Linked DNA regions of Homo sapiens: all the other regions are reported to be linked to region 1. The links are microRNA targets in miRTarBase. Many come from high-throughput screens and were not tested one by one. Region 1 holds a microRNA gene; each other region holds the end of a gene's coding sequence.

Evidence for each region. The annotated mature microRNA hsa-miR-423-3p reads AGCUCGGUCUGAGGCCCCUCAGU and lies in region 1 at 2,146-2,168, opposite strand. An mRNA with a match to its seed (bases 2 to 7 or 8) in the 3' UTR can be bound and repressed. Matches are read on the target gene's strand: a 7mer-m8 pairs with bases 2 to 8, a 7mer-A1 pairs with bases 2 to 7 and ends in A, and an 8mer does both.
Region 2: miRTarBase lists NUDT2 as a target of hsa-miR-423-3p. The part of its 3' UTR that is shown has no 7-base or 8-base seed match.
Region 3: the mRNA of MRFAP1 is a reported target of hsa-miR-423-3p. The part of its 3' UTR that is shown has no 7-base or 8-base seed match.
Region 4: miRTarBase lists C1orf56 as a target of hsa-miR-423-3p. The part of its 3' UTR that is shown has no 7-base or 8-base seed match.
Region 5: miRTarBase lists B4GALNT3 as a target of hsa-miR-423-3p. The part of its 3' UTR that is shown has no 7-base or 8-base seed match.
Region 6: the mRNA of UBE2J2 is a reported target of hsa-miR-423-3p. The part of its 3' UTR that is shown has no 7-base or 8-base seed match.
Region 7: miRTarBase lists RBBP4 as a target of hsa-miR-423-3p. The part of its 3' UTR that is shown has no 7-base or 8-base seed match.

Annotation. Positions count from the first base shown.
Region 1 is chr17:30,116,299-30,119,298 of GRCh38, reverse strand. It overlaps MIR423 (microRNA 423), which reads right to left and starts at 2,220; the gene lies at 2,127-2,220. NSRP1 (nuclear speckle splicing regulatory protein 1) reads right to left here and starts at 2,483. Exons shown (of 7, transcript NM_032141.4): 1 at 2,436-2,483; 2 at 1,126-1,219. The coding sequence starts at 2,455. MIR3184 (microRNA 3184) reads left to right here and starts at 2,139; the gene lies at 2,139-2,213. RefSeq lists silencers at 2,051-2,120, 2,057-2,658 and enhancers at 2,371-2,470, 2,501-2,600, 2,621-2,740, 1,773-2,972.
Region 2 is chr9:34,343,025-34,347,455 of GRCh38, forward strand. It overlaps NUDT2 (nudix hydrolase 2), which reads left to right. Exons shown (of 5, transcript NM_001161.5): 5 at 100-675. The coding sequence ends at 416. Among named protein-coding and RNA genes, the nearest start is that of NUDT2, 16 kb to the left of the region's middle.
Region 3 is chr4:6,641,023-6,644,022 of GRCh38, reverse strand. MRFAP1 (Morf4 family associated protein 1) reads right to left here. Exons shown (of 2, transcript NM_033296.3): 1 at 2,765-3,000; 2 at 1,294-2,293. The coding sequence ends at 2,777. Among named protein-coding and RNA genes, the nearest start is that of MRFAP1, 1.8 kb to the right of the region's middle. RefSeq lists a silencer at 2,301-2,370.
Region 4 is chr1:151,048,457-151,052,887 of GRCh38, reverse strand. C1orf56 (chromosome 1 open reading frame 56) reads right to left here. Exons shown (of 2, transcript NM_017860.5): 1 at 4,036-4,431; 2 at 1,468-2,450. The coding sequence ends at 2,430. CDC42SE1 (CDC42 small effector 1) reads left to right here. Exons shown (of 5, transcript NM_020239.4): 5 at 1-1,903. Among named protein-coding and RNA genes, the nearest start is that of C1orf56, 2.9 kb to the right of the region's middle. RefSeq lists an enhancer at 4,240-4,431.
Region 5 is chr12:559,961-564,391 of GRCh38, reverse strand. It overlaps B4GALNT3 (beta-1,4-N-acetyl-galactosaminyltransferase 3), which reads right to left. Exons shown (of 20, transcript NM_173593.4): 20 at 883-3,049. The coding sequence ends at 2,941. It overlaps NINJ2 (ninjurin 2), which reads left to right. Exons shown (of 4, transcript NM_016533.6): 4 at 1-96. Among named protein-coding and RNA genes, the nearest start is that of NINJ2-AS1, 69 kb to the left of the region's middle. RefSeq lists an enhancer at 1,142-1,643.
Region 6 is chr1:1,251,864-1,256,294 of GRCh38, reverse strand. UBE2J2 (ubiquitin conjugating enzyme E2 J2) reads left to right here. Exons shown (of 7, transcript NM_058167.3): 6 at 170-250; 7 at 808-2,383. The coding sequence ends at 1,092. Among named protein-coding and RNA genes, the nearest start is that of C1QTNF12, 7.4 kb to the right of the region's middle.
Region 7 is chr1:32,678,721-32,683,151 of GRCh38, forward strand. RBBP4 (RB binding protein 4, chromatin remodeling factor) reads left to right here. Exons shown (of 12, transcript NM_005610.3): 12 at 920-4,431. The coding sequence ends at 985. SYNC (syncoilin, intermediate filament protein) reads right to left here. Exons shown (of 5, transcript NM_030786.3): 5 at 1,186-3,140. The coding sequence ends at 3,130. Among named protein-coding and RNA genes, the nearest start is that of SYNC, 22 kb to the right of the region's middle.

The DNA.
Region 1 (3,000 bases):
TATTAAAAATACTAAAAATACAAAAAAATAAAAAAATAAAAATTAGCCAGGCATGGTGGCAGGCACCTGTAACCCCAGCTACTCAGGAGATTGAAGCAGGAGAATCACTTGAACCTGGGAGGCAGGGGTTGCAGTGAGCCAAGACTGCACCATCCCACTCTAGCCTAGGTAACAAGAGCGAAACTCTGTCTCAAAAAAAAAAAGAAAAAAAAATATTAAAACATGATGGGAGTATTGGAAAAGCACATATTTACTGGGTGCGGTGGCTTACGCCTGTAATCCCAGCACTTTGGGAAGCTGAGGCAGGCAGATCACCTGAGGTCAGGAGTTCAAGACTAGCCCGGCCAACATGGTGAGACCCTGTCTCTACAAAAATACAAAAATTAGCTGGTCATGATGGCAGGTGCCTGTAATCCCAGCTACTCAGGAAGATTAGGCAAGAGAATCGCTTGAACCCAGGAGGCGGAGGTTGCAGTGAGCCGAGATCGCGGCATTGCACTCCAGCCTGGGCAACTGAGCAAGACACTGTTTCAAAAAAAAAAAAAAAAAGAGAAAAGAAAAGCACACATTTGGGATTGTTTCTGATATATAACTGTGGGTTTCACAGAAGTAGTTTTGGCTGCTAAAATAGAAAATGTTGATATTAGATGTTACTGTAGTACTATCAAGAGTAACTATTCACTACCACGATTATAACTGAGCAATTACATTTGGCAGACACTGAATTTAAAAAAAAAGTAGCGTTGTTAAGAACTGTTATATAGTGATCTTAGCTCATGGTTAACAAATTAAAAACTGCTTTGCTAATAAAAATTTGTAGAAAATTGGTGACATCTTAATAACTCATACCTAGGGATCTTTACACCAACAATTTTGTTATGACAATTTCAGTAGTCTGAAAAGACCGTGTATTTGTTTAAAGGTAAAGTTTGCAGCTTTTAGAGGGAAAAAAATCTTTAAAAAATCGGTGGAGCTGCTTTCTTTACACCTTCCTTTTTGACAATTCTGTAAATTATACTCCACTGTACTGACAAATAACAAAGGCAAAGGTATCAGAGTCACAAGTTCAATTTTTAAAAAATTTACATTTCCAACCATGCACGAGTAAAACATAGGTTTCCTTACCTCATCATCATCATCAGAATCATTCCCAAACACTGATGGTTTTTGCAAAACAGGGTGCAACTGCTGTGTTTTCTTTGGCAAAATAAGCCCATACCTGCATATATTTTTTTTGAAATAGAAATTAAACCTTTATGTTTAAATGTTAACAAATACATCTACTACCTCTTCCACATGAAGCTACCAAATCAAAACATGTCATAAGCTTTATGAACACGTAACAGACTGTTTTTGCTTCTCAGTGATCTCAAAATTCTAACATGCCGTAAGATTCTATAATTACTACTCTAAGTGATCATTTGTGGACACGGGCCAAACTCGAATACCATTTTTATCAAAGAAGAGAAGTAAATGAAAAGTTCAGAAATGTTTTAAGATGGCGAAGTGACAGTAACATTTAAAAAAAAAAAAAAAAAACATGTGTAGTGGAAAGTTTAGTTCATGTCCACTAAAGATTTTAAAATGCTTTCAACTATCCTTGTGGTCTAAACAGTCAAGAAAATGGCTAGATTTTTTTTCCTACTGTGTACTTACACAGTTTCTAAGAACTGACTGGATAGTGTAACTCACGAAAATTTTTAAAAGATAACTGAGAAACCCAAGTAGCCATGGGGCAAGTTCGCATTACACTTTATTAAGATCATGTGCTTTGCCTCGGAGCATCTGAGAGAACCATCCCATCAGATCCAACTCCTTTAGTTTCTCACGTTTTGGCCTTTAAGATGCGGAGATCACGGGAGGCCGCATCAAAAGTAAGGATTACACATCAAAGGTAAAACTTTCAAGTACGTACAGTATTTGTCTCTTTTGCGGCAACGTATACCCCAATTTCCTATATGCCTACCCTTTTTCTGTGGCTTCTCAGAACAATATTCCTAAAACGAGAAGGAAGGGCGGGAATCAGGACTTGAGCTTCTGCCAAGGAGAACAAGGCCCTCTAAGGAAGCCAGGAACTGTCTCTCTTCACACTGCCCCTGAGAGCATCCAAGCGGGGAGAAACTCAAGCGCGGGTTAGGAAGCAAGACTGAGGGGCCTCAGACCGAGCTTTTGGAAAATAGAAAAGTCTCGCTCTCTGCCCCTCAGCCTAACTTCCTTTATTTCCTCACAAGTTTCTCCCTCAAACTTCGGGCTTCCATCCGGGAAAATGTACGGGGGAGGGGAATCTATGTTCCTCAGGACTTCTCGTTTTTTCCCGTCTCTACCCTTGACGACACAGTCCCTTCACTTCCAGCGCATTTAAAACTCCTCGGCCAAAGATACAGTCGCCGTAGTTTCTCATCCCCCAGCCTGACCCTAACTCCCGGATCACTCACTGCCTGCCCGGAATCGCCATCTTGCTCCCGTGTCCGCTGAACGTGGCCGACGCCTCCGTGACGCTGACGCCGATGTCGTCACGTAAACTCTCGCGCGGCTTTGGGTGGCCCGGATCCTGCTTGTCGGTTGAATCGCTGGTTTGAGTCACTTCTATGGTACTGGGAATCGGATCCAGTGACCTCTGTTTTGTTTCGGAGCCCACCGGCTGCCTCAAAATCTGTAGGAGAAAGGAATGACAACGTTCTAGGCCAGTTGTTCGCAGTGTGTGGTTCTGGGACCAGCGGCATCAGCAACACCGGAGATACTGTTAAAATGACAAATTCTCGGGCCCTACCCCAAACCTGCAGAATCAGAAACTTTGGAGTGAAGCGAGTTATCTGAATTTTAACCAGCGGGTAATTCTGATAAAGTTTGAAAACCACTGCCATGGCTATCGATATTCCCCCTACCCCCTTCCAAGTGTTCACTTTAACTGGTTCAGGATAATTAGGCGAAAAATGAAAATCTGTGTATTAATAATACCTTACATAGGACCAAAATTATTATTAAAAAAAAAATTTTTTT
Region 2 (4,431 bases), not on the chromosome of region 1:
AAGCAAAACAGAAAAAAAAAAAAATCTTGTCTGGAAAATCCAGCTTTGGGAACTTTGGAAGATTTCCTCCTCCTTTTCTTCCTCTTTTCTCCTAACTAGGCCATGTGGAACCAGGAGAGGATGACTTGGAAACAGCCCTGAGGGAGACCCAAGAGGAAGCAGGCATAGAAGCAGGCCAGCTGACCATTATTGAGGGGTTCAAAAGGGAACTCAATTATGTGGCCAGGAACAAGCCTAAAACAGTCATTTACTGGCTGGCGGAGGTGAAGGACTATGACGTGGAGATCCGCCTCTCCCATGAGCACCAAGCCTACCGCTGGCTGGGGCTGGAGGAGGCCTGCCAGTTGGCTCAGTTCAAGGAGATGAAGGCAGCGCTCCAAGAAGGACACCAGTTTCTTTGCTCCATAGAGGCCTGAGCTGACTGGAGCAGAGTCATTTGCTTCAGCAGGATCCTTGTGGGCCTTCTAAGATGAAGCCACCCTCAGGTCCAGGGAAGGTTGTGCTGGTATTTGGCTCATGACAGCCAAGAGCAGATTTGTGAAATCGGCTCAACTCCCAGGTGAGAGCAAGCAAAAATCTTGGCTGGGTGGAAAGGAAGGCAAAAGAGTAAAAATTAAAAAGGCCAGGCCCAGTAAGTGTACCTTGTACTTTATAAATAAACCTCAAGCAGCTCAAGGTTGTCCTTCTAACCTGTTGTGTTTATTTCTTGGACTCTTGGCATTGGTGGAGAGAAGAAAGCTGAAGTGAATCAGAGTTCTGACCTTAACCAGAGGGAACTCTGTGTCCATACAGTATCCCCAGAGAACTTAAGAGCTAGGGATCCAAATGGAAGAGACCCAGCACTGGCAGGATGGCTCTCTCGCCTCTGGAATGCCAAGCACACCCACCCCACCCCCACCAGGGGCCCTGAGACTTTGTGACCCATAGTCAGGATTTCCAAGTGAGTGGGACTGGAGTGCAGGAATTGGGTCTGTCCTACTCACTAATATATCTTTCACCAGCAGCAGGCACATATGTTGTAAGTACTCAGTAAATATTACCTTAAATAGGGCCAGGCACGGTGGCTCACACCTGTAATCCCAGCACTTGAGGCCTAGGTGAGCAGATCACTTGAGGTCAAGAGTTTGAGACCAGCATGGGCAACATGGTGAAACCCTGTCTCTACTAAAAATACAAAAATTACCTGGGGGTGGTGGCACACACCTGTAATTCCAGCTACTCGAGAGGCTGAGGCAAGAGAATCACTTGAACCTGGAAAATGAAGGTTGCCGTGAGCTGGGATCGTGCCACTGCACTCCAGCCTGGGCGACAAAGCGAGACTGTCTCAAAAAATGAAAGTATTACCTTAAATAATTAGAGACTGGCTAGGCGTGGTGGCTCATGCCTATAATCTCAGCAGTTTGAGAGGCTGAGGTGGGTGGATAACTGAGGTCAGGAGTTTAAGACCATTATGGCCAACATGGTGAAACCCCATCTCTACTAAAAACACAAACATTAGCTGGGCATGGTGGTGCACACCTGTAATCCCAGCTTCTTGGGAGGCTGAGGCAGCAGAATTGCTTGAACCTGGGAGGTGGAGGTTGTGGTGAGCTGAGATGGTGCCATTGCACTCCAGCCTAGGCAAGAGTGAGACTGTCTCAAAAATAAATAAATAGGCTGGGCGCAGTGGCTCACGCCTGTAATCCCAGCACTTTGGGAGGCCAAGGCAGGTGGATCACCTGAAGTCAGGACCTCAAGACCAGCCTGGCCAACATGGTGAAACCCCGTCTCTATTAAAAATGCAAAAATTAGCAAAAATGCAAAAATGGTGGCTCATGCCTGTAGTCCCAACTACTCAGGAGGCTGAGGCAGAAGAATCACTTGAACCCGGGAGGCAGAGGTTTCAGTGAGCTGAGATCACACCACTGCACTCCAGCCTGGGCAACAGAGCAAGACTCCACTTCAAATAAATAAATAAATAGAGACAGAAAGAATTTTAGACTCCCCAAGTCACAACAGAGAGAGGAGGGACAGGCAACCCTGGACCCCCAGGTCAGTGACACGTGTACTCTGTCCTCTCAGACCAGGCCTGCCTCCCAGAGTGATAAGCCTTGTTAACATGACTAAGGTCACTGGGAATGAGGCAAGCCCAGACCCAAAGGAATCTGCTGGGCCACCCAGCAGTCACATCATTACACCTGTGCATTCCTCACCTGCAGCTGCCTTCCCCACCCTCAGCAAAACCTCATCATTAATGTTTCTCTCTTCCTATCTACTTTTTTTTTTTTTTTTTTTTGAGACAGAGTTTCGCTCTTGTTGCCCAGGCTGGAGTGCAATGGCACCATCTCGGCTCACCGCAACCTCTGCCTCCCAGGTTCAAGTGATTCTCCTGCCTCAACCTCCCGAGTAGCTGGGATTATAGGCATGTGCCCCCAACATGCCCAGCTAGTTTTGTATTTTTACTAGGAACAGGATTTCTCCATGTTGGTCAGGCTAGTCTCAAACTCCCGACCTCAGGTGATCTGCCTGCCTCGGCCTCCCAAAGTGCTGGGATTACAGGCATGAGCCACCACGCCCAGCCTTCCTATCTACTCTTTTTGTCCACAACTCCACTGTAAGACTCAGAGGTGCAAGAGCTGGGTCTCAGCCCTGTTTTCCTTTGCTACTAGGGCTCAAGGAATGCAGGAGCAGGTGTTAGATCCCACAGCCCTTCCAGGAGCTGTTAGCAGCTGGATTCATGTGGATTTTATTAGAAAGTTGTTGCCCAATGAAGTGCAGAAGATTGGAAGTGAAGGGGCATTGGCAGAGGTCAGCCTGGATTACCAGGGTCAAGAACAGCCACCCCCAAAGGAAGAAAAGACAACTCGCCCAGGTCTTAAGCAGACTTCCAGATGTTTTTAGTCCCCAGTTCTCCATGCAGACAGGGCAAAAGTACTAGTGAACAGGATCTTGGAGCACAGCCAGGGGCCTGAATGGTTTTGTTCCTCACCCTCTGAGCAGCATTCTCTGAAGGAGGCCTGCTGCATGAAGTTTTTGGAGCTTAATGTTCTTTTTCCAGGCCAGCAGGGACCATATCACACTGATTTAATAAATGCCTGCTGGGCAGTAGTGCCAAACCACAGACGAGCTGCCTCCTAACAAGGGCTGGCCAGCTCCGCACTCTCAGAATGGGAGGCTGTGGAATCTCAAGTCTAAGACCTCATACATCAAAGTTGGAAGGGACCTGGAAAATGACCTGATTTGGCTGCTCATTTTTATTGCTGGGGAAATTGAGACTTAACAAGATAGATGGCCCTGGCAGTATCTATAGATGGGGTGCTTTGAAGAGGGGGTGCCAGAGGGAAGACTGCTTTAGAATATATATATATATATATATATATATATATATATATATATATATATATATATATATATATGTATGTATGTATATATAGCTTTGGAGTCATTCCTCTGGGCCTTACAGAGTGTTCCATTAAAATGTAGGTACTTTGGTGAAGAGGTCCCTCATAAGTTGTATTTTTTTTTTTTTTTTTTTTTTTTTTTTGAGAAGGAGTCTCACTCTGTCGCCCAGGCTGGAATGCAGTGGCACGATCTCGGCTCACTGCAATCTCCACCTCCCAGGTTCACGCCATTCTCCTGCCTCAGCCTCCTGAGTAGCTGGGACTACAGGCACCCGCCACCATGCCCAGCTAATTTTTTTTTTTTTTTGTATTTTTAGTAGAGATGGGGTTTCACCGTGTTAGCCAGGATGGTCTCAATCTCCTGACCTCGTGATCCACCCACCTCGGCCTCCCAAAGTGCTGGGATTGCAGGTGTGAGCCACCGCGCCCGGCTGTAAGTTGTATTCTTTGCAGGAATAACTGACAGTAGGGTGGGACTAAAGCATGTTATGGGAGGTGGATGAGGGTGGGAGAGAGAGGAGCTGAGATTAGGATGTGGCAGGTGAGTAGGCTTTGACAACATCACCACTTTGCTTTTGGCCAGTGGGGCTTGGGCAACCTGAACTCAGACCCCAGAGCGTTACAAAATCCAGCTCCCGTGCCCCACCACACCCCTCTCAACTGGCAGAGCAGCACTCTGCCGATGCTGCACTTTGGGTTAGGCCAGGCCTCAGGGAGACCTCAGCAGAGTTGTACCAGTTCAGGAGATGCTTCCATGTTGAAGTTTTCCTCCAGAGAATGGGGCTGGTCAGAACTAATCTAAAATTGGAGGAGAGCCCTGCCCCAGCCCCTCTGAGGGAGAGCTCTCCCCTGGGACCTCAGCCAGTTTACCAGCTCTTTGGCTGTCAGAGTCCCAGAGTTCTAGAGTCCAGTCTTTCCCAAGTTCTTTCGTTGTTGGTTTTTTTTTTTTTTTTTTCCCGAGAGATGGAGTTTCACTCTGTTGCCCAAGCTGGAGTGCAATGGCGCGGTCTCAGCTCACTGCAATCTCCACCTCCCGGGTTCAATCAATTCT
Region 3 (3,000 bases), not on the chromosome of region 1:
CACATTAGTATTTGTAAGGATGTATAAGAAACTTCTAGTTTCCTGAGAGGGGAACTGGGAAGCTGGGGAGAGATGAAGGATCACTTTCGTGTCATTTATAAATCTTACTCATTGAAAACAATCGACTTCCCGATGCAATGTAGTATCCCAGAACAGAAAAAGGGCCTTAGTGGGGAAACTGGTGAAAGCAGAGAAAAGTCTAGTTGGTAGTGTTGTACCAATGTTACATTTCTTGTTTTGGCAAATGTACGAAATGTAGTTTTCGTGGTTGTTTCCCAGTTCATAATTCTGTCCTATACATTTCTTCTCCCTCCTCTGTGTGGAACTCACACAGAAAACCTTGAACATCTTCCATTGTTTCCTGTGCCTAGCATGCCTCTCCTGCTCTTCCTGACCTCGGAAGCTGTGCTCCTCTTTCAAGGCCAAGCTCTGAAAGAGTTACTTGCTCTGGAAAGCTTTCCTAGACCTCCCCCTCAAGTGTTCTCCTGGGACATTCTATCTTTATTAGTGCTAGGGACACATGGCTTTGTTTGATTTCTACCAACTAGGTTGCCCAGAAAGTGGACTCCAAGATGAAAACTAGATGCACGTTTTTTAGGGATTAACACTTGTGGAAGAGGAGGAATGCAAGGCTGGGACGGGGGAGGAGGTGGGCTGCGTGATGTAATCCTAACAAAAGCCTCAGCAGACCCCACAAGCTCAGAAGCCACCATGTCCCTCAAAGTTGTCCCAAATTGGGGTAAGAGAAATAGCGACCTGAGATTTCCAGCCCATTACTCACTAGATGTAGGCTACCCAGGGAAAAGGGCATGACTTTGGCTAACGCAGCTCTCCTCTGAAAAGGCACTGCCCAGAGGGCTAACCAGCTGAAGGGTGTTTGTCAGCAACACTTCTAGCAGCTGAGGCAGAAAGGCTTCAATCTGGAAGGAGGGTGGGGTATCACATCTCCTCTATGTCATCCCTCACCCTGCAACTGTAATCGCTATATTCCCAGTGCAAGGCCTAGAAAACAATGTTCCAATTGGAAAGACTGAAGGTGCTTTGGCTCTCTGAAGGCAGAGGCCTGGACCACAGGATTACATGTGGTTTCTTCCCACACTAAGAACCAAGTGTGTTTCTTCCTCACCCGGTTCCCAACAGCAGAGAGAGAAAGCTTCCCTTTGATTAGAGACTAAGAGCCTCAGAAACCGTTAAGATGTTCACCCTCCATTTGACAGTGAGAACCATCTGGGAGACAGCAGATTTCATTCTTAAAGGACTAACATTTCTCAATAACCTTTTAGGTCTTTCGTCTTTTCAAGCAAATGAATACTTTTATTAACATGGTAAGTTTTTGTTTGTTTTAACATGGTAGGGTTCTGACCTCAAATATTTGTTAGGTCTGCTACTCAAATGAACTTACAGCTGGACAACGTATGAACCTTGAAGATGCCTCTTCTAGTCCAGTTTAGGGTCCAATGCAGACAGTTCCATACTGTCATCCCCAAGCCCCTCAAGGGCCTTTGCCAATCTTTCATTTTATGCCAAGTCCTCTAAAACGCATCAGGGTATTACATCAACTTGTACAGAATATCAAGATCTTATCTTCTATTTTAGGTTCCATGTCAAATAAAGCTGAGTTAGGTTGTCCAAACAAACTCACCAGACAGGTTACATAAGATAGTGTACCACAACAAATTTAAATTTTGAACAAAACACATCTCTCCTCCTTTGGTCTCACACAGAAATTAAAGTCTCCAAATACAGACAATACTATCCATTCTCCAGCTCTTCTCCAGATTCACGAGTCCCAGCCAGGTCGGCCCATCCACACTCCCCGTTGAAGTCTGGTCCTTTCTTCAGTAGTTGCTGCATGGAGTCGTCTTCCAGAATTAATGCAGCTCCTTCAGCACCTCCAGAGCTGGAGAACTCCAACTGTGAGTCTCATGTGTCACACACAGACCCAAAGTTCCAGGGAGCTATCAGGTCACACAAGAAATAGCAAAGCACCTCAAAAATTTAGAAATAACCACCAAAGCCCGGGAACAAATGTGACTGCTGCAAGAGCTTACAATCTAGGCCCTAATTCCTGTATGTGAGAGCATTTTCAAACAAAATTACTTCCCAAACAAAAACACGTTAACAATCGAAACTCATATTGAGGTCATCAACCACAGACCATAGCAGAAAACGTAGTGTTAAGTGAGACAGAGCATAGACAGGAAAAAAGAGAAAACAAAAGGCTCTCTGGTTTCGGCTTCTCCAGGGTGTCAGCCAATCTCCACCAGTTGACCAGAATCCATTGGCTGGAAACCTAAAGCACAATGGGAAGAAATTCATCATCGAGAGGTTAATCCCAGGCACAACGACCCCCAAACCCTCACGAACGCCACTGTGCAGGACGCCACCTCTTCTGGCCACCACCTGACTCACTCCAGTCTCTAGCAACGTTGACTTGTCCAACGTCTTCCCCGAAAATCCTCTATTTCCACCCCCGCTTGCTGGACGGCCCGGGACCTTGTCCGTTTCTGTTTCCTTGGCGACTCTGAGATTTATGACCCTTCCACTGAACACGCATCACGCCCAAACCCGGCCACTCTGATTATCCCACGCCGCCACCGTCAAAAAACAAAACACGAAGACGGGGCCCAGATCGGCCCTGACCCGAGCACGCCTTTATTCTCCCGCCCCACCCCCGATTCCGGTGCATCTCGATGAAATCATCGCTCTCGAAGAGCGGCCAAGCTGGGGCCGCTCCTCGGCCTGGCGCGGGTGCCCGACTTACCGCCGACCGCGCTCACGACGACTCGCTCTTCTCTATCCGCCGGACCAGCTCCACCAGCATCTCTGCCATCTTCGCAATCTCCTTGGCCTTCTCCTCGGCCTTCTCGCACCTCTTGGCCGCCCGGCCCTCGGCCGCGTCGCCCGGGTTCTGGAGGTGGTTGAGGGCGCTCTCCTCCGAGGCCTCCACCTGCGTTTTGATCTGGATGAGCATATTGTCCATCTCCCACAGCTTGCTCC
Region 4 (4,431 bases), not on the chromosome of region 1:
CCTGCTGGAATGAACTAAAGCAGATGTCAAGCAGGGGCTGGTGGGGGTGCCTACTCCCTTTTCCACTCTATCTTTAGATTTCAAACCTTAGGCTTACAGCCCCTCAATATCTCTCTGCTAACACCAGTGTCTCTTTCTAGTTAGGCCTCTAATCTTCTGTTTCTGTTTACCAGCTTCCCAGCAACTTTCCTTTTTTAAAATATTAAAAATTTAATTCAGGTTCTCTTAATTATCCTCATCCTGCTGTTGCCTCCGCCCTTAACTCTATCCCTATTAGGAACCTTGTTTCCCACCGAATAAGAGTTAAGGTAAGAGGTAGCTCTTCACCTGATGACATTCCATTTAAGTTTTGGGGCATCTTTCCTGCCCTCTGCCAACCTCCCTGCTGGCCCAGGTGAGAGGAGGAAGAGGGGTCTGGAAAGAAACCCAGAATGCGGCAGAACTAGGAGTAAGTCCATCTCAAGGTGGACTTCTGATCATTGAGGATGGTGAGATAAATAGGTTGAAAACAATCATCTGTGAGTTTAGGAGTCTTAAGATCCTCACAGCACGGGAGCAGGGAGAGGCTCTAGAACAAGGTTTCACAACCGAGATGCCTTTGACATTTTGGGCTGAAGTGTTCTTTGTAAGGAAAACCTGTTTCCTATTTTGTGCATTACAGGATATTTAGCAGCAACCCTGGCCCACTCTAGTTATGACAACCAAAAATGTCTCTATACATTGCCAGATTTCTCCTAGGGGGCAAAATCGCCTCCATTTGAGAACCACAACTCTAAAGTCAAGATATTTTTCTCTGAAGTGATTTCTGCTTGGCACGCTACCCTCATCATCTTACTCATCTTAAGCCCGAGCCATGGATCAACTAGGAGCCCATATAAATGAGGCTCAGTAGGGCTGCACATAATCTCCAAACAATTCTTTATTCAGTGTTTTGCTTGTGTTTGCATGTTGCTATGATGGACAGGTCCCCCTCCTCCATTCTTGCCCTCTGGAGAAGTGGTTCCTGCAGTGTAGAGATATGAACAGGGTATGGTAGGATTGGGGAAAGGGGAGAGAGAAGCAGTAGATACACTCCTTATCCTCCCCAAATTTTAAGCTCTATTTCTGTGCCCTAGTCCTAGACACACATTAGACTCAGGGAGTTTTGTCTGAAGACCAGGTCCCACTGCCCCCTGGCTGAAGAGTCTGCTTTAAATGGGAAAACAACGTAGGAGCAGGGGTTTTTAGGCACTTTCAGTATTCTCAGGTGTTCTTCGTTCTGGCCCTTCCAGGGTAATTAGGAAGGCAGAACAAGACAGATGAGCTCCTGCCTGCTCTGAGACAAGAAGGGTGGGGTCTCATTAGCTTTGCAACAGGAAACATCCTGTTTTATGGTAGTGGGGTCAGGAATGTAGGAACTGGTATCCATTCTGCCAATTCCACCACCCATTCAGTTTGCTTATCCCTACAGAACAGTGACTGAGGTTCTTTTTTTTTTTTTTTTTTTTTTTTTTTCAAATTTCCATGTATTTTCTGCCATTTTTCAGGGTCTAAGATTGGTCATACATTCCCAATTTACTCTCAGTTCCAGTCAAGCTGGTTGCTCTGAAAGTAACCCAGCTTGTTGCTCTAAAATACCTCAGTAGCCTGAGTGTTATACTAGAGATCTAAAGGGTTAACAGGATAGGGTGGAAAGGTTAGAGACTCCTAGAAATCTCTGGTCACCGTGATCTTCGGCCTCATTCTAATACCTGTTCTTTGGACAGTCTTTTTCCTTTGGTGCTCTCTTGCCTTTAGCTACCTTCTCTAATATGTATGCTACCATCACTAATAAAGTGATGGGAATGGGTTTGAGAGTCGTAATTTATATTAAAAAGTTGTTGGACTTTTAAATACATTTTTTCAAATAAAAAATTAAGCAAAATAGTTGCACAGTAATCATTGCAGGTGTGTGTTGGATTAAAGGATGGATATAGCTAATGAAGATAACTCCTCGAAAGTGGCTGAGATGGAATTTTGTACCAACATTGCCCTTTTGAGGAGAGAGGGCCAAGCATGAAGGCAAGAAGACCACTGTCATCTTTCAAGGGCTCAACTCCTTGTTCTTCCTACTCCCTTTTCTTAGCGTTTATTTGAGATTTTTCAAGCCTGTAAAAGAAGTACTTGTTTTAAAACAATGTTGGAAATGAGGAAAATGAGCAATATCAACATTTTATCCTGAGGGACAGGGAGTAGAAAACAAGCCAGAGGCTGCTAGTTACATAGTTCAGTCTTAGGGATGAAGGGATTTATGTCTCTCCTCCCTCAGGTACCTCTGTAAAGAAACACAAGACCAAACAATGTGTTTTCCAGTTTTGTTTTTCTGTACTAAAAATATCTAGTGGGTGCTAGGATTGAAAGGGCAAGAGAGGTTGAGATACTGACATCTCCTCATGTGGATGAAGTGGCCATTACCTCTGGTTTCTGTCTATCTGCGTAAGAAAAAAAAATAGAGAAAAAGGGAAATTACAACCACATCTATATTCTTTTCCCTTCCTTGCTTCATCTCCCCCTCCCACAAACCCATATTCCCTCAACCCTACTGCCCACCCCTTACTTATTTTTGTATGCAATAATGGTATTGGACACACAAGGAGAAAAACAGAAACAAGCAAAATGACCAAGTGTAAGCTTTATTACCTTTCCCTCCTCAAAGTCCTATCATCCGTATCAATTGAGACTACCTTATCAAGTCAATCAGAACCTTTGCTAATTCTGGGAAAAGCAGAGGACTATCCTTCCTTGTCCTGGAAGGACAGTACTCCCAAATGGTAGTGGTGAAGAGAGTGGGCACTGGTGTCAAACCTGGTTTAAATCTCGTGGCTCTGCCACTTACTAGCTTTGTAAACCTCAGTTTCTTCATCTGAAAAGCAGGGATAATAATACCTCATAGGATGTGAGGATCGATTCAGGTAAAGTGCACATAGTAAGACCTCAAATTTTGGCACTTGTTGCTGTTAAGCTGTATTAGGTCAAAACTATTAATTGATTAAGATCCTTCATATCTGTTAATTATCTGTGCATCAAAAAGACTTTATGGGCCGGGCACAGTGGCTCATGTCTGTAATCCCAGAATTCTGGAAGGCCAAGGTGGGCAGATCCTTGAGCTCAGGAGTTGGAGACCAGCCTGGGCAACATAGCGAGATCTTGTTAGCCAGGCATGGTGGTGCACGTCTGTAGTCCCAGCTATTCAGCAGGCTAAGGTGGGAGGATTGCTTGAGCCCAGAAGATGGAGGGTGCAGTGAGTTGTGACTGCGCCACCACACTCCAGCCTGAGTGATGAGAGACCCTGTCTCGAAAAAAAAGTCTTATGGTCAGGGGCACAGTAGCTCATGCCTGTAATCCCAGCACTTTGGAAGGCTGAGGCAGGAGAATTGCTTGAGCCCAGGAGTTTAAGACCAGCCTGGGCAACATAGCGAGATCTTGTCTGTGAAAAAAACAGAGAATTTCCAAGACCAGGCATGGTGGCTCATGCCTATAATCCCAGCACTTTGGGAGGCCGAGGCGGGTGGATCACTTGAGGTCAGGAGTTCTAGACCAGCCTGGCCAACATGGTAAAATGCTGTCTCTTCTAAAAAAAAAAAAAAAATTAGCCGGGCATGGTGGTGGGTGCCTGTAATCCCAGCTACTCAAGAGGCTGAGGCAGGAGAATTGTTTGAACCTGGGAGGCAGAGGTTGCAGTGAGCCAGGATCACGCCATTGCACTCCAGCCTCGGCAATAAGAGTGAAACTCTTGTCTTGAAAAAAAAAAATATTTCCAATCTTAACTATTTGGTCAATAATCACCTAATGAGCAGTAAGACATTTTACCTAATGACCAACCAGTAGTTGCTCAATAAATAATAGGTGGAATCAATGGCTAACAATGTGAATAACCAATGCATGTTATGAATCAATAACCAGGTAAGTCAGTAACAGTTCATGTAAGCAACACTGGCTGGCTTAGCAACTGGGTTTTAGATACCAGGACTTTTCAGATCCGTCAACAAAGACCCTGGCTCATCACCAAACACTTACTGGTTGCATCTCTGTGAACACTGAAGAGAGGCTATTCCAAATATCCTCCAGGCCAATCCTGACCCGTTTCCAAAAAGCCAGGGCTGGGCAGGGGCTGGCGGGTGGCAGGCTGGGACTGCTTCTGAGGTGGATGGTGGGGAAGGGGGTAGTGGTGGTCCTGGTACTGGTGGTGCTCTGAGAGGCACAGTTGGTGTCAGTACAGAGACTTGTGTCCAGGGGGCACTCTTCCCGAAGTCGGTTGCAGGGACATTGTTGATAGGTGCAAGGCTTGTGCTCCGTGCGGAGCTGGCTCAGCGCCCCAACTCGAAGGCGCCCGGAAAGGCCGTGCAGCTTCCCAGACCGGCTCCGGCTCATGGTGCCCGACTTGCAGTGGCAGTGCCACGGGCCCCAGGGCAT
Region 5 (4,431 bases), not on the chromosome of region 1:
GTTCTGACTCTACCCCACTGCTTCCTTCTGCTCCAGGCCTCAATTTTCCCTTCTTGTAAAATGGAATCTATATCTATAAAGGTTTCTTCAAATCCACTCTTGAGTCCACTTACTTGTCTAGTCCTGCAGGCTCAGGCATCCAGGCTGGTCTCCATCTGTGCCTTGGAGAGGGCTCAAGAGAGCAAACCCCAGACCTGGAGGGTGGGAAGGCTTTTAAATTACTTCCTCCTCTGTGGGTTCTGCTCGGAGCCAATGTTCCTGGCCCAGATGTCTTGCGCTTATCGTCATCTGCCCCATGAACTGTAGATTAGTCCATTGCAGGTGGATGCACATATGCACAATCTTCTCCACGAACCTGCTGTAAGCTATTCTGGCTTTCAGTCTCAGCTTCCCTTAGGCATGTGTTTAAGGACTGCAAACTCATTTTGATCTTTGCCTGGGCCAAATATAACGAGGAAGGTAAATCTGTAAAGCATTAGCAAAGCATTGCCAACTCAGAAACAGAAATGATTTTTAGAAGGTCTGCCAGTTTAGAAGCAGCCACTCGTTGGCTTCTCTCCACTGCTCACCAAACCGTTCTGGCCCTATATCTAGCCTTCTCCACCCAGCGTATCCATAGCTTTCCTCGGCTAAAACCACCAACCTCCATTAATCTGCTGAACAGAAAATGCCTAGTCTATTACACGGTGAGCTGCTCAGACAGGAACAATGTTGTCTTCTTCCTGAGTAAACCGCAGTGCAGAGAAGGCCATCTCACACACAGCAGGCATCACACTTGTGGTAAGGGTGGAGGGTGGTGTGGGAGGGTCCTTGGCACGCCCACCTGGGCCCCTCAGCCCAATCCTTTACATCCGTGAAGAGCAACAGGAAAAGACAAGCACCTTTTTTTTTTTCTAAGAAGTTGCTGTATTTAATGCTTCCCCTCCCACCATCCCACACCCTCTCCTACCCAAGACATTTCTCTAGGGAGTAGGGGCCTTGCCCGGCCCTTCCTCTTAAGGCAGATGGTGTGGAGGTAACATCAAACGCAAGGCACTGGCCCAGGGCGCAGGGGTGTGGGCAGGGCAGGAGGCTGGGCTGGCTCCTAGTCATTGGAAGTGAAGCAGGTGGGCAGTTTGGGCTGGTTCCAGCCTTCCAGTGCAATGCCCGAGGACGAGAGTGGTCCCAGAAAGAAACTGGCAGCCCCACTGGCCAACTGCAGCCCTAGCCTATGCCCCACCATCCTTCTCCAGGGGCCAGTCGGCCTCAGCAGGGACCAGAAAAAGCCACAGCCCAGGGAGCAGGTATGGCCTTCCTAAGCCACAATCTCAAAAGTCTCTGTCCTTCATGATTCCTTAAAGGGAGGCAGGGATTCTCCCCGACCCCCCAGAAGGTTCTCCACGGGCTCCATTCTCCCATGTGCCAAACTCGTGCTCTCGGGGAATGCAGAGCCCACTAGGCAGACCCTGCAGCTCCAGTGCCGTGGTTTGGACCGTCACAGCCTGGAGCGCGGGCTCAGTGGCCTGGTCTTCTGGGCCCCGCCGCACCTCCCCCAGCCCTGTGCTCACCTCCCTAAACAGACTCTGGAGTTCAAGATCCAGTGTCCAATGCACCATGGGTGAATTCACAGCAGTGGTGGAGGCAGCAGCAGCAACAGAAAAACCCCCAGCCACAAAAGCACCGGGGTTATTAGTGCAAGAGAAGTACAAGGTCTCCAGGTGACAGAAAGGGTGGCATCGACTAAAAAGGCTAAGGGCTATTTTCCCTGAAACTGCCCCCCTCTTCAGTTCCTCCTGCCCCCACTCCTCTCCCTGCCTCCAGGGGATATCTCAGGGCAATGTCCTCACCTCCCCAAACCTCTCATCCCGCCCCCTTCTTATCCTGCTCCCTGTCCAGGGTTTTGCCCCCGTACACCCTTTCCTCTTCTTCCACTCAAGGCCGGGTGGCCAGGGCTCTCCCTGCAGAAGGGCAGGTCTGCAGTGGAGCTGGACTGTGAGGCTCACAGCTTCCACTTCCCTTTTCGTCCCTTTCTGTCCAGCCCCCACCCGCTTCTTGCCTAAGGAAATTGACAGATATGTCCACATCCTCTTTACCTCTTCTCCATGTCCTCTCGGGAGGCCTTACCCACAGGCACGCCGGTAAGGGAAAGGGCTTCTCTCCCCTGCCTTCATCACCCTGCCTGTTCTGCAGGCCTCAATGTCCAGTGCCAGGGAGTGGCAAGCCCCCTGCCCGCCAGCTCCCCACCTCCCAATGCCCAAGCACCAGAAACAGCCCGTTCTGTGCTTCTGGTCTGACGTGAGCCATCCGGAGGAAGTTAATGCCCTAATCAGTGGCCAGCTGTTTGGTGGCTACTGGGAGATGTGTGTCTCTGGAAGGCACGAGCCTGGGGTGGAGCAGAGACCTGCCCCACGTGGGACCAGTCCCGCGGCCAGGGACAACGCCCAAGGGACATAGGAGTGGGCGGGAGGCCTGCACGTGGGGACAGTCCCTCAGTGCACAACCTCACCCCCGCTCTGGACAGCAGTTTCGGTTTTCTGTTTTTAAAATCCCCGCCCCCCAATAAAATATGTCCACTAGAAGAGGGTCTGGTGGTCAGCGCTTGGCGTGAGGAGCGCTTGGGGGATGTGGGCGTGCACCTTCATGGATGAGGATGGTGTCGCTCAGTCAGATCTCTCCTTCCTGACCCGTCCTTCTCAGGAGCTCTTCCCGTTCTCGACTGAGCAAGTGGTCCCTCCTGGCCTCTCTCTCAAAGTCCTCCCTTCTGAAGGCCCAGGAGGCAGAGACAGGAGCCCCGGAACCTGCCTCTGTGAGGGGACAGCTCCAGGTGGAGTGGGCCGTCAGCTTCGAGGCCTCTTGGGGTCCAGCCGTCACCCCACTCCCCATCCCTGAACAGTAGCAGGGCCCTGGGGAGCCACTGCTAGTCCAGAGCGGGGAGTGCTGGGCCCCGCGGACACCCTCCGGCTACAGCGTCTTCATCTGGCGACGGCTCCACATGCCTCGCTTGGAATGGAAATGATGGAAGAAATTCCTGAGGGAGAGACGCTCCACGTCCAGGCCCGCTTGGAGTATCCTGGAGGAGGAGAAACACAGATGAGCCAACAGAAGCACAGAAGGCAGCTGGGGGGCCCCTCCCCATCGACCACAGACCCTCTGTTCGCTCCCCACGGGGCAGGGAAGGCAGGTGCAGTGGACGGCTGTGGGCTTTGAAGCCAGGCAGCCTGGGTTTGGATCCCAGCTGCATGACTGGGTATGTCACGCCTTCTTTCAGAGCCTGTCTGCTCATCTCTAGGAGGACGATTATCACATACGTGTAATGAGAGGATAATGTGTGATATAGAATTCTATCTATCTAATATTAGAGTAGACATACTATATACACATCAGAGGTGGGGAAGACGAGAAGGATGGATGCTGAGGGCTCAGCACGGCTCCTGGCACACTCTGAGTGCCCCATAACTGGCGCCCAGCCTCCAGGGCACACGTCATAGACGGAGGAAGGCAGGGCTGCTGCACTGAGACACCTGGCGCCTAGGCCCTCCCCAGGCCTTTTGTGCATGTGCAGCCTGCAGGGTGTCCCTCTCACAGGGAGGCTGCACTTCTGGCAGGGCTGAGAGTGGCCGAACTGGATGCCTGAGCCTCCGAGGAGGCAGGAGGTTCAGGGCTGTACAGGAGCCGTGCATGGCAGCAAAAGCCCAGCACAGAGATCAAGGTGGAGGTGACTGCTGGACCCGGCTTCCCAAATCAAGGCTTCCAGCTGCCCTGGGGGCTCCTTTGATCTCAGACCCTTTTTATGAGCTCCCAGTTATCTACGTTCCTTTACCTTCCCCCTTTTCACTCGAATTCTCTTAGTGTGTCACCTTCCTTTTCTTTCTTCCCTCAACGGGAAAAAACACCAATAGACCTAGTTTTCAAGCCTCTAACGCTTAAGTGAGTGAGATTTGGGGCAAGTTATTAACTTCTCTTCAAGACTCAGTCTTCTCATCTGGAAAATGGAGATCATGATGCCGACCTCACTGAGGTCTGGGGAGAAATAAACGAGGTAACGGATGTGGATGGCCGGCCATGTATAGGGACCCAGTGACTGGTGGATGCATTTTGTCCTGCCTCTCGGGAAGAAGTGAGCGTGTCTTCGTGTCGAGGTCCCGCCCCCAGTGCTCCTGACCTTGCCCTGTCCACCTCCTGTGGACGCTGTTACAGCGCTTATGCCCTTCTGAAGGGTACCCTCCCCTCTCCTTTGCTCCCTCACCATAGGCTCAGATCTCAAGGCACCATCCTCTCTCTGCCCCTTCTCTTGGCAGCACATTTCTTGAAAGAGGAACCTCACACGGAACAGCCTCCGCCTCCTCACCACCCATGGCCTGGTGTCCCTGCCCAATCTTGCTCTCCTTGTCCACCTGCCAAGGCAGCAGCTTGTACTGTGTTCTTCTCTGAGGCTTTTCATCTCATTGACCC
Region 6 (4,431 bases), not on the chromosome of region 1:
ATTAAGAAGGCTTTGTAAGACTATAAGTTAGTTTGCTGTGAAGAGTGTGCTTATTAAATGCTTTCTGCAACACGAAGACTGCAGCCCTTGACTTTGAAATCATCTGTTTTTAGAATCTTGAAAGAATTGAAATTAGTTTTCTGGCTGATTCCCTTCCCTTCCTTCCTAGAAAAGACAACTGGCAGTGCAGAGTTTAGCATTTAATTTGAAAGATAAAGTCTTTTGTGAATTATTTCCTGAAGTCGTGGAGGTAAGAAAGACGGAAGTGGGTTTCGCCTTCCCCTGCGTTAAAACACTTGAGTTTCACCTCTTTCCAAAGAGTAAAATCTGTGTCCTGAAGCTGCAGACCTCCCCAGGGGATGGCTCCTCTCCCCCAGGAGCCCCGAGGCAGGGGAGGCAGAAAGCCTGGGCTCTGGGGGGTGGCCTGCGGACAGCTGTGCTGGTGGGCCGGGGGCTGGGCCTGTCCCACAGGGGCGTGGAGCTCGTGGTTCTGAGCAGCCAGCTGGGTGGTGTCTGGGGATAGCTGGGAGGCACAGCGGCTGCCATGTGGGACTGGGACTGGAGTGCTCCCTGGTCTTGGCCTCTGTGGCTCAGCCTTGCTCTGGTCTGCCTGAGTGCAGGGGCCAAGGGGCACAGGGCCAGTGAGGCCGGCCACGCTCGGGCCCTCACCTGTGAGATGGGGTCGGAATTTGACACAGCCTAGGGCTTGGTTCTTGGTGGTGGACCGTGGACTCCTGAGAACGGGAGTGCTGGTCCTGAAAGGCGCTGGTTGGAGACCAGCTGCTTTTCTCGCTGTTTTTCTCTTAGGAGATTAAACAAAAACAGAAAGCACAAGACGAACTCAGTAGCAGACCCCAGACTCTCCCCTTGCCAGACGTGGTTCCAGACGGGGAGACGCACCTCGTCCAGAACGGGATTCAGCTGCTCAACGGGCATGCGCCGGGGGCCGTCCCAAACCTCGCAGGGCTCCAGCAGGCCAACCGGCACCACGGACTCCTGGGTGGCGCCCTGGCGAACTTGTTTGTGATAGTTGGGTTTGCAGCCTTTGCTTACACGGTCAAGTACGTGCTGAGGAGCATCGCGCAGGAGTGAGGCCCAGGCGCCGAGACCCAAGGCGCCACTGAGGGCACCGCGCACCAGAGCGTGACCTCGGCAGGCTGGACACACTGCCCAGCACAGGCAGACCCACCAGGCTCCTAGGTTTAGCTTTTAAAAACCTGAAAGGGGAAGCAAAAACCAAAATGTGTGACTGGGCTTTGGAGGAGACTGGAGCCTCAGCCCTGTCCTGGCCACGGGCCGCTGGGGCTGGTGTGGGTGGGCCTTGTGTGCTGGATTTGTAGCTTATCTTCCGTGTTGTCTTTGGACCTGTTTTAGTAAACCCGTTTTTCATTTTATTAGATGTGGTCACTTAGAAATGCAAACTTGCTGCCGACCGCGGGCTGCTCCTGCGTTCTTGGAGCTCCTGGCGCGTTTCTCGGAGCTCCCGGCTCCTCAGCGGGTGGGAACCTCGGGGCCCAGGGGTGGAGCTGGCGTCCGCGGGTGCTGGTCTGGCCTGGCCGTGTGGTGATGAGGCTTAGCGGGGCCAGTGACGGCCGTGGCTCAGGATCCATAAGTCGGGGTTTGGTCTCAGCATTTACAAATGTGTTTACAGTCAGAATGAAACACATTCCTTCTAGAAAGTGCTTGGGGGTTTTTGCTGCCCTGGAAGCCAGGAGCCTGCTCACTCCAACCACAAGTCGCCCTTGACTGCGGCGGCCGCGAGCGGGGCGGGGGCTGCCGGTGCCCTCCGCAGGCCGGGCCTCCTGGGCGCCCCTCGGTGCTGCAGGCTGGGGGGCCTTGGGTACCTGCAGAGCCTTTTCTCTGAATTCCTTATGTCCGGTGGGCCAGAAGCCCGTCCTCCTATGCTGGTGGAAGGCGGAGGACCGGAGTCCCTGCAGAAGGCCCCGTGCACTCGGGGGCCTCCCTCACATCCCGTGCCCCCTGCGCTGGCCTTCACAGTAGGTAATGGCTCCGGCCCGGGTGTTCGCTGTCCACGGAACATGGCAGAGGGGCACCCCGGCCCGGAAAGACGCCAGAGCCAGCAGGGGCTGTTTCGGGCCGCGTGGCTCCCCGGGTCTCGGCCGTCTCCCCTCTTCTGCGTCTGTTCCGTGACTTCGCCTGGGTGGGATGTACCGCAGGTGCATCGCGTCGAGGTGGGGCACGGCCGCCGGCAAGAAACCCACCCTGTCCGGAGGCGGGCGTGAGACAAGCCCAGCCCGCACGCGCTCATCTTTCTTCGTTTTTTGATCAGTTTATTCAGAATTGCTCTATAATTTACCAATTGTATGTATTTAACCTATTCTTGTGGAAAAAAAAGGTCTTTCATTATATCTTTATTTCTGAATTTCATGCTGCTTGTGTCTGTGTGGGCCGGGATGTGTGTCCATCTCTGTGCTCAGGGCTGGGGTGGCCCGTGACCAGGGGGTCACACCTGCTGGCCTGGGGTGGTGTGGCAGCTGCAGGGCAGGTGGGTCCCCACAGGGAATCGCGTCGCTGGAGCCATGGTGTAGAGCCCTCTGCAGGGCTCTCTCCCCATCCCGTACTGGATGCCAGCCCTGCCCTGATCTCCGCTTCTGTGACCGCCAGCATCACTTCCAAAGCCCGGTGTCTCCCGAGGCTCATGGGAGGGGGAATGCTAACGAATAGAGTGTTTACTCAACACGCTACTGCCGGGTGCAGTGGCTGCCGCCTATAATCCCAGCACTTTGGGAGGCTGAGGGGTGGATCTCTTGAACCCAGCCTGGGCAATGTAGTGAGACCCCATCTCACAAAAAATACAAAACACTACCTGGTGTGGTGATGTGCACCTTTGGTCCCAGCTACTCAGGAGGCTGAGGTGGGAGGATTGCCTGAGCCCGGCAGGTGGAGGCTACAGTGAGCCATGATGGAGCCACCGCAATCCAGCCTGGGCAGCGAAGCCAGACCCTGTCTCAAATGTCGTCTAGATGTGAAATCTCAACTTTGTTTTTTTGTTTTTTGGAGACAAAGTCTTGCTCTGTTGTTGCCCAGTGTGGAGTGCAATGGTGCTATCATGGCTCCCTGTAACTGCAGGGTCCAGCCCTACTGGGCCTGTGGGTTCTTCTTGTGTACGGAGAGATGTGAGATCATAGAAATAAAGACACAAGACAGGGATAGAAGAAAAGACAGCTGGGCCCGGGGGACCACTACCACCTAGATGTGGAGGCCGGTAGTGGCCCCGAATGCCTGGCTGCGCTGTTATTTATTGGATACAAGGCAAGGGGGCAGGGTAAGGAGCGTGAGCCATCTCTAATGATAGGTAAGGTCACGTGTGTCTCGTGTCCACTGGACAGGGGGCCCTTCCCTGTTTGGCAGCCGAGGCGGAGAGAGAGAGAGGACAGCTTACACCATTCTTTCTTCTATGTATTTCAAAGACTTTTAGTACTTTCACTCATTGTGCTACTGCTATCTAGAAGGCGGAGCCCGGTGTACAGGGCGGACCACGAAAGCAGACCAGGAGTGTGACCGCTGAAGCACAGCATCACGGGGAGACGGGCCTCTGGATGGCTGCGGGTGGGCCTGACTGATGTCGCCTTGCACAAGAGATGGTGGAGCAGAGTCTTCTCTAACTCCCCCGGGGAAAAGGAGACTCCCTTTCCCCGTCTGCTAAGTAACTGGTGCCTTGCCAGGCGCTAGCGCTACCGCTAGACCAGGGACCCCTCTGGTGGCCCTGTCCGGGCGTGACAGAGGGCTCACACTCTTGTCTCCTGGTCACTTCTCACTATGTCCCCTCAGCTCCTATCTCTGTATGGCCTGGTTTTTCCTAGGTTATAGTTGTAGAACAGAGATTATTATAATATTGGAATGAAGAGTAATGCTAGAAACTAATGATTAAGAATATTCATATATCATCACATCTATAATCTATTTCTAGTGTAACTATTCTTATTGTGTATATTTTCTTTATTACACTGGAACAGCTCATGCCCTCGGTCTCTTGCCTCGGCACCTGGGTGGCTTGCCGCCCACATGTAACGGTGACCTCCTGGGCTCAAGGGATCCTCCAAACTCAGCCCCCTACATATCTGGGACCGCAAGTGTGCGCCACCATGCCTGGCTAATTTTTGTATTTTTTGTAGAGATGGAGTTTCGTCATGTTGCGCAGGCTGGTCTTGAACTCCTGAGCTCAAGGGATCCACCTGCCTCGGCCTCCCAAAGTGTTAGGATCACAGGCGTGAGCCACCGCGCCCGACTAAAATCTCAACTTTTTTTTTTTTTTTGAGACGGAGTCTTGCTCTGTCGCCCAGGCTGGAGTACAGTGGCGTGATCTCTGCTCACTGTGACCTCTGCCTCCTGGGTTCAAGTGATTCTCCTGCCTCAGCCTCCCAAGTAGCTGGGATTACAGGTGCCTGCCACCACACCCAGCTAATTTTA
Region 7 (4,431 bases), not on the chromosome of region 1:
CTGGGACCACAGGGGTGCACCCCCACACATGGCTGATTTTTGTATTTGTAGTAGAGATGCAGTTTCGCCTTGTTGGTCAGGCTAGTCTCAAACTCATGACCTCAAGTGATCTGTCTGCCTCAGCCTCCCAAGTGCTGGGATTACAGGTATGAGCCACCACACCTGGCCTGACTGGCTTTTTTATGCCAAATAATATTCCATCATATGGATTGGATATACCGTGTATCCATTTTAGTAGTTGATGGATATTTGGGTTGTTTTTACTTTTTGGCTATTATTAATAATGTCTGGTTAGGCTGGGCACAATGGCTTACTCCTATAATCCTAGCACTTTGAGAGGCCGAGGTGGGCAGATCACCTGAGATCAGGAGTTCGAGACCAGCCTGGCCAACATGGTGAAACCCCATCTCTATTAAAAATACAAAAATTAGCCAGGCGTAGTGGCATGTGCCTGTAATCCTAGCTACTCTGGAGGCTGAGGCAGGAGAATTGCTTGAACCTGGGAGGCATAGGTTGCAGTGAGCCGAGATGGTGCCACTGCACTCCAGCCTGGGAGACAGAGCAAGGCTCCATCTCAAAAGGAAAGAAAAATAATAATGCCTGGTTAAAGAACTCAAGAATGTTGGCTATCAAGACAAATAGTATCCACACTGCAGTTTTGTGGGAATGTCCTAATCAGGCGTCTGGGGATCAGCTGCTTATTTTTATTGGAACATGATCATGCTAATTAATATTTCATTACCCATTATAGGTTGTCTCCGGATACTTTCATCCAAGAGTTGAATAGTTGTAACACAGATTGTGTGGCCCAAAAGCTATAAAGTATTTACTCTCTGGCTTCCTGGCCTAATCTGTTGTTGAAACCTTGAGTTTTAGAAGAAGTCTTCATGTTTAAATTCTTTTTCTTGTTTTTGGGCAGGCAGAGAACATTTATAATGATGAAGACCCTGAAGGAAGCGTGGATCCAGAAGGACAAGGGTCCTAGATATGTCTTTACTTGTTGTGATTTTAGACTCCCCTTTTTTCTTCTCAACCCTGAGAGTGATTTAACACTGGTTTTGAGACAGACTTTATTCAGCTATCCCTCTATATAATAGGTACCACCGATAATGCTATTAGCCCAAACCGTGGGTGTTTTCTAAATATTAATAGGGGGGCTTGATTCAACAAAGCCACAGACTTAACGTTGAAATTTTCTTCAGGAATTTTCTAGTAACCCAGGTCTAAAGTAGCTACAGAAAGGGGAATATTATGTGTGATTATTTTTCTTCTTATGCTATATCCCCAAGTTTTTCAGACTCATTTAAGTAAAGGCTAGAGTGAGTAAGGAATAGAGCCAAATGAGGTAGGTGTCTGAGCCATGAAGTATAAATACTGAAAGATGTCACTTTTATTCAGGAAATAGGGGGAGATTCAAGTCATATAGATTCCTACTCGAAAATCTTGACACCTGACTTTCCAGGATGCACATTTTCATACGTAGACCAGTTTCCTCTTGGTTTCTTCAGTTAAGTCAAAACAACACGTTCCTCTTTCCCCATATATTCATATATTTTTGCTCGTTAGTGTATTTCTTGAGCTGTTTTCATGTTGTTTATTTCCTGTCTGTGAAATGGTGTTTTTTTTTTTGTTGTTGGTTTTTTTTTTTTTTTTTTTAACTTGGGACCACCAAGTTGTAAAGATGTATGTTTTTACCTGACAGTTATACCACAGGTAGACTGTCAAGTTGAGAAGAGTGAATCAATAACTTGTATTTGTTTTAAAAATTAAATTAATCCTTGATAAGAGTTGCTTTTTTTTTTTAGGAGTTAGTCCTTGACCACTAGTTTGATGCCATCTCCATTTTGGGTGACCTGTTTCACCAGCAGGCCTGTTACTCTCCATGACTAACTGTGTAAGTGCTTAAAATGGAATAAATTGCTTTTCTACATAACCCCATGCTGATGGGTTTTATTTAGTATAAAACATCCATCAAACACCAGTCTCTGGCTTCTAGAAGAGTCCTTCAGATGACAGTTGTTGTCCATGGTCTTTGACTATCAAGAGCAGAATTAAATGTAATAGTCCCAGAGCTGTAGAAAAGAACTTTACTCCTTCCCAGGGAAAGTGAAAGACATAAAACACTGAATCAGAGGTGGCACAGATTAGTCTTTGATAAGGTAACGTTTCTTTGAAGTCTATCTGTAGAGAACTACATGGACTTCCAAGAGTGTCAAAGGCAGTGTGGTAGAGAGAATTTAAGGCAAGATTTAAATTTGGAAAAGGTGCTTGAACCTTTTCTCAGAGGTTTTATTTCCCCAGTATGTTTTTCACTGGGGCCTTTACTTAGGTTAGAAATAATAGGCTTTGAAGGCCTCTATCACCAGATGCAATAACCAGATAAAATTCCTGTTTTTTCCCAATCGCTTAGTTTTTTGTTGTTGTTGTTTTTTAACTGAGTAGATCATTCTGACCCAGAACTACTTTCATGAGGTAAGATCTTTGGGAAAATCTGAATAGCGTTAACCATTAGATTCAAATCTCAAATGGTTTCTTTTCAAGTCTAGTTGTTTTAGAGTATAGTGAGAAATACCTTGACACAATTTTAAGAGTAAACTATATGGGTCAGCATATCCTTGAACAAAAAGTAGACTTTGTAAAAGTATTCATTTAAATTCTAACACTCGTGGCACAAAAGAATGGAAATTGTAAACCCATGTAATGGAAATTGGCTATCTTTTTGACCCCACATGTGCCCCTCAAAAATGTTTTTGGTTTGGGTCAACACAAGGCAAGATACATTCTTTAAAATACTCCCAGATGTGTCCATACATTCATCCTTCACTCAGTGCATATGTGAGGGTTGTTGCTGGAAGACAGGAGGCTCATCTTTCCTTTCCTTGGTGCATTGAGATCAGTATCAACAGCAGATGAAATAGAATCCAGCAAAGAGTTGACATGTTCTGCCTCCGGCCAACTCTAGAATCTTTTTAAGCAGGTCAGCCAGTATTTGCAACTTCCACAGGATGAATTGCTTGCCAAGTTTCTGGCACTCTTGTCTGGTTGGAAGAGTACATCCAAAGGGTACTTAGTGATCCTTTGCTAAGAAGTTTTTTGCTGTTTCCGGGTTACAGATTTGGCCATATATTTCTAAACAGCCCCTGTAAAGTTGAAAGAAAAAGTTTATAACAGTGAACTTCTGAGGTTTAGTTACTGCAGGCTTTGTTGAGAAGAGATTGTTACAGTGTGATTTATGGATGATCAGGGATGACTTTCCCCTAGCAAATATTTGGATGCCTCCTGTTTGTCAAATAGAATGAATGGTGATGGTGATGGGAGGGATAGTTAAACGTTTTCTCTGCTAGGTTAACTTCTTACAGGTATAATTACAATGCCTGAAATTCTGTAGTTTCATTTCTTTGGATTAGTCGTTGTCTTTTCCAGATTGTACACAATCTGATCAACACAAAGGTAGTTAGTAGATCATTAACCTCAATTGCAAGGTTATAATTTCTCAAACATTAAGCATATTATCAGTCATGTGGATTCAAACACAGTATAAGAAAATCCTCAAGGCTGGGTGTGATGGCTTATGCCTGTAATCCCAGCTACTTAGCAGGCTGAGGCAGGAGTATTGTTTGAACCCAGGAGGCAGAGTTGCAGTGAGCCAAGATCGTGCCACTACTCCAGCCTGGGCAAAATAGCAAGACCCGACCCCCCATCTCTACTAAAAAGAAATTTAAAAAAATAAAATCCTAGAAAATTAGAAAAAGCAACAATAGTTACTTGTGGGCCAGGCGCGGTGGTTCACGCCTGTAATCCCAGCACTTTGAGAGGCTGAGGCACGTGGATCACAAGGTCAGGAGTTCAAGACCAGCCTGGCCAAGATGGTGAAACCCCGTTTCTACTAAAAATACAAAAACTAGCTGGCCGTGGTGGCATGCTCCTGTAGTCCCAGCTACTCAGGAGGCTGAGGCAGGAAAATCACTTGAACCCAGGAGGTGGAGGTTGCAGTGAACTGAGACCGTGCCACTGCACTCCAGCCTGGGTGGCAGAGCGAGACTGTCTCAAAAAAAAAAGAAAGTTGTGAATTTGATGTAAGCTTAGGAAATGAATAAAATTTATAGGCATCTGTATAATGTACAACTTGACACGGACTTTCTTTTATCCTTAGTTTCTTTCACGGACTCTAGAACTTTTATCAGAATATACTGGTAAAACATTGGGGGAGGGATCCTGAGTAGGTGATTGGTCAGAAAGATGCCTTCAGTTTTGTCAGTGTCTAAAAGTTAAGTCTGTTTAGGCCAAGCATGGTGGCTCACACCTGAAATCCCAGCACTCTGGGAGGCCGAGGCAAGTGGATCACAAGGTCAGGAGATGAGACCATCTTAGCCAACATGGTGAAACCCCGTCTCTACTAAAATACAAAAAAATTAGCCAGGCGTGGTGGTG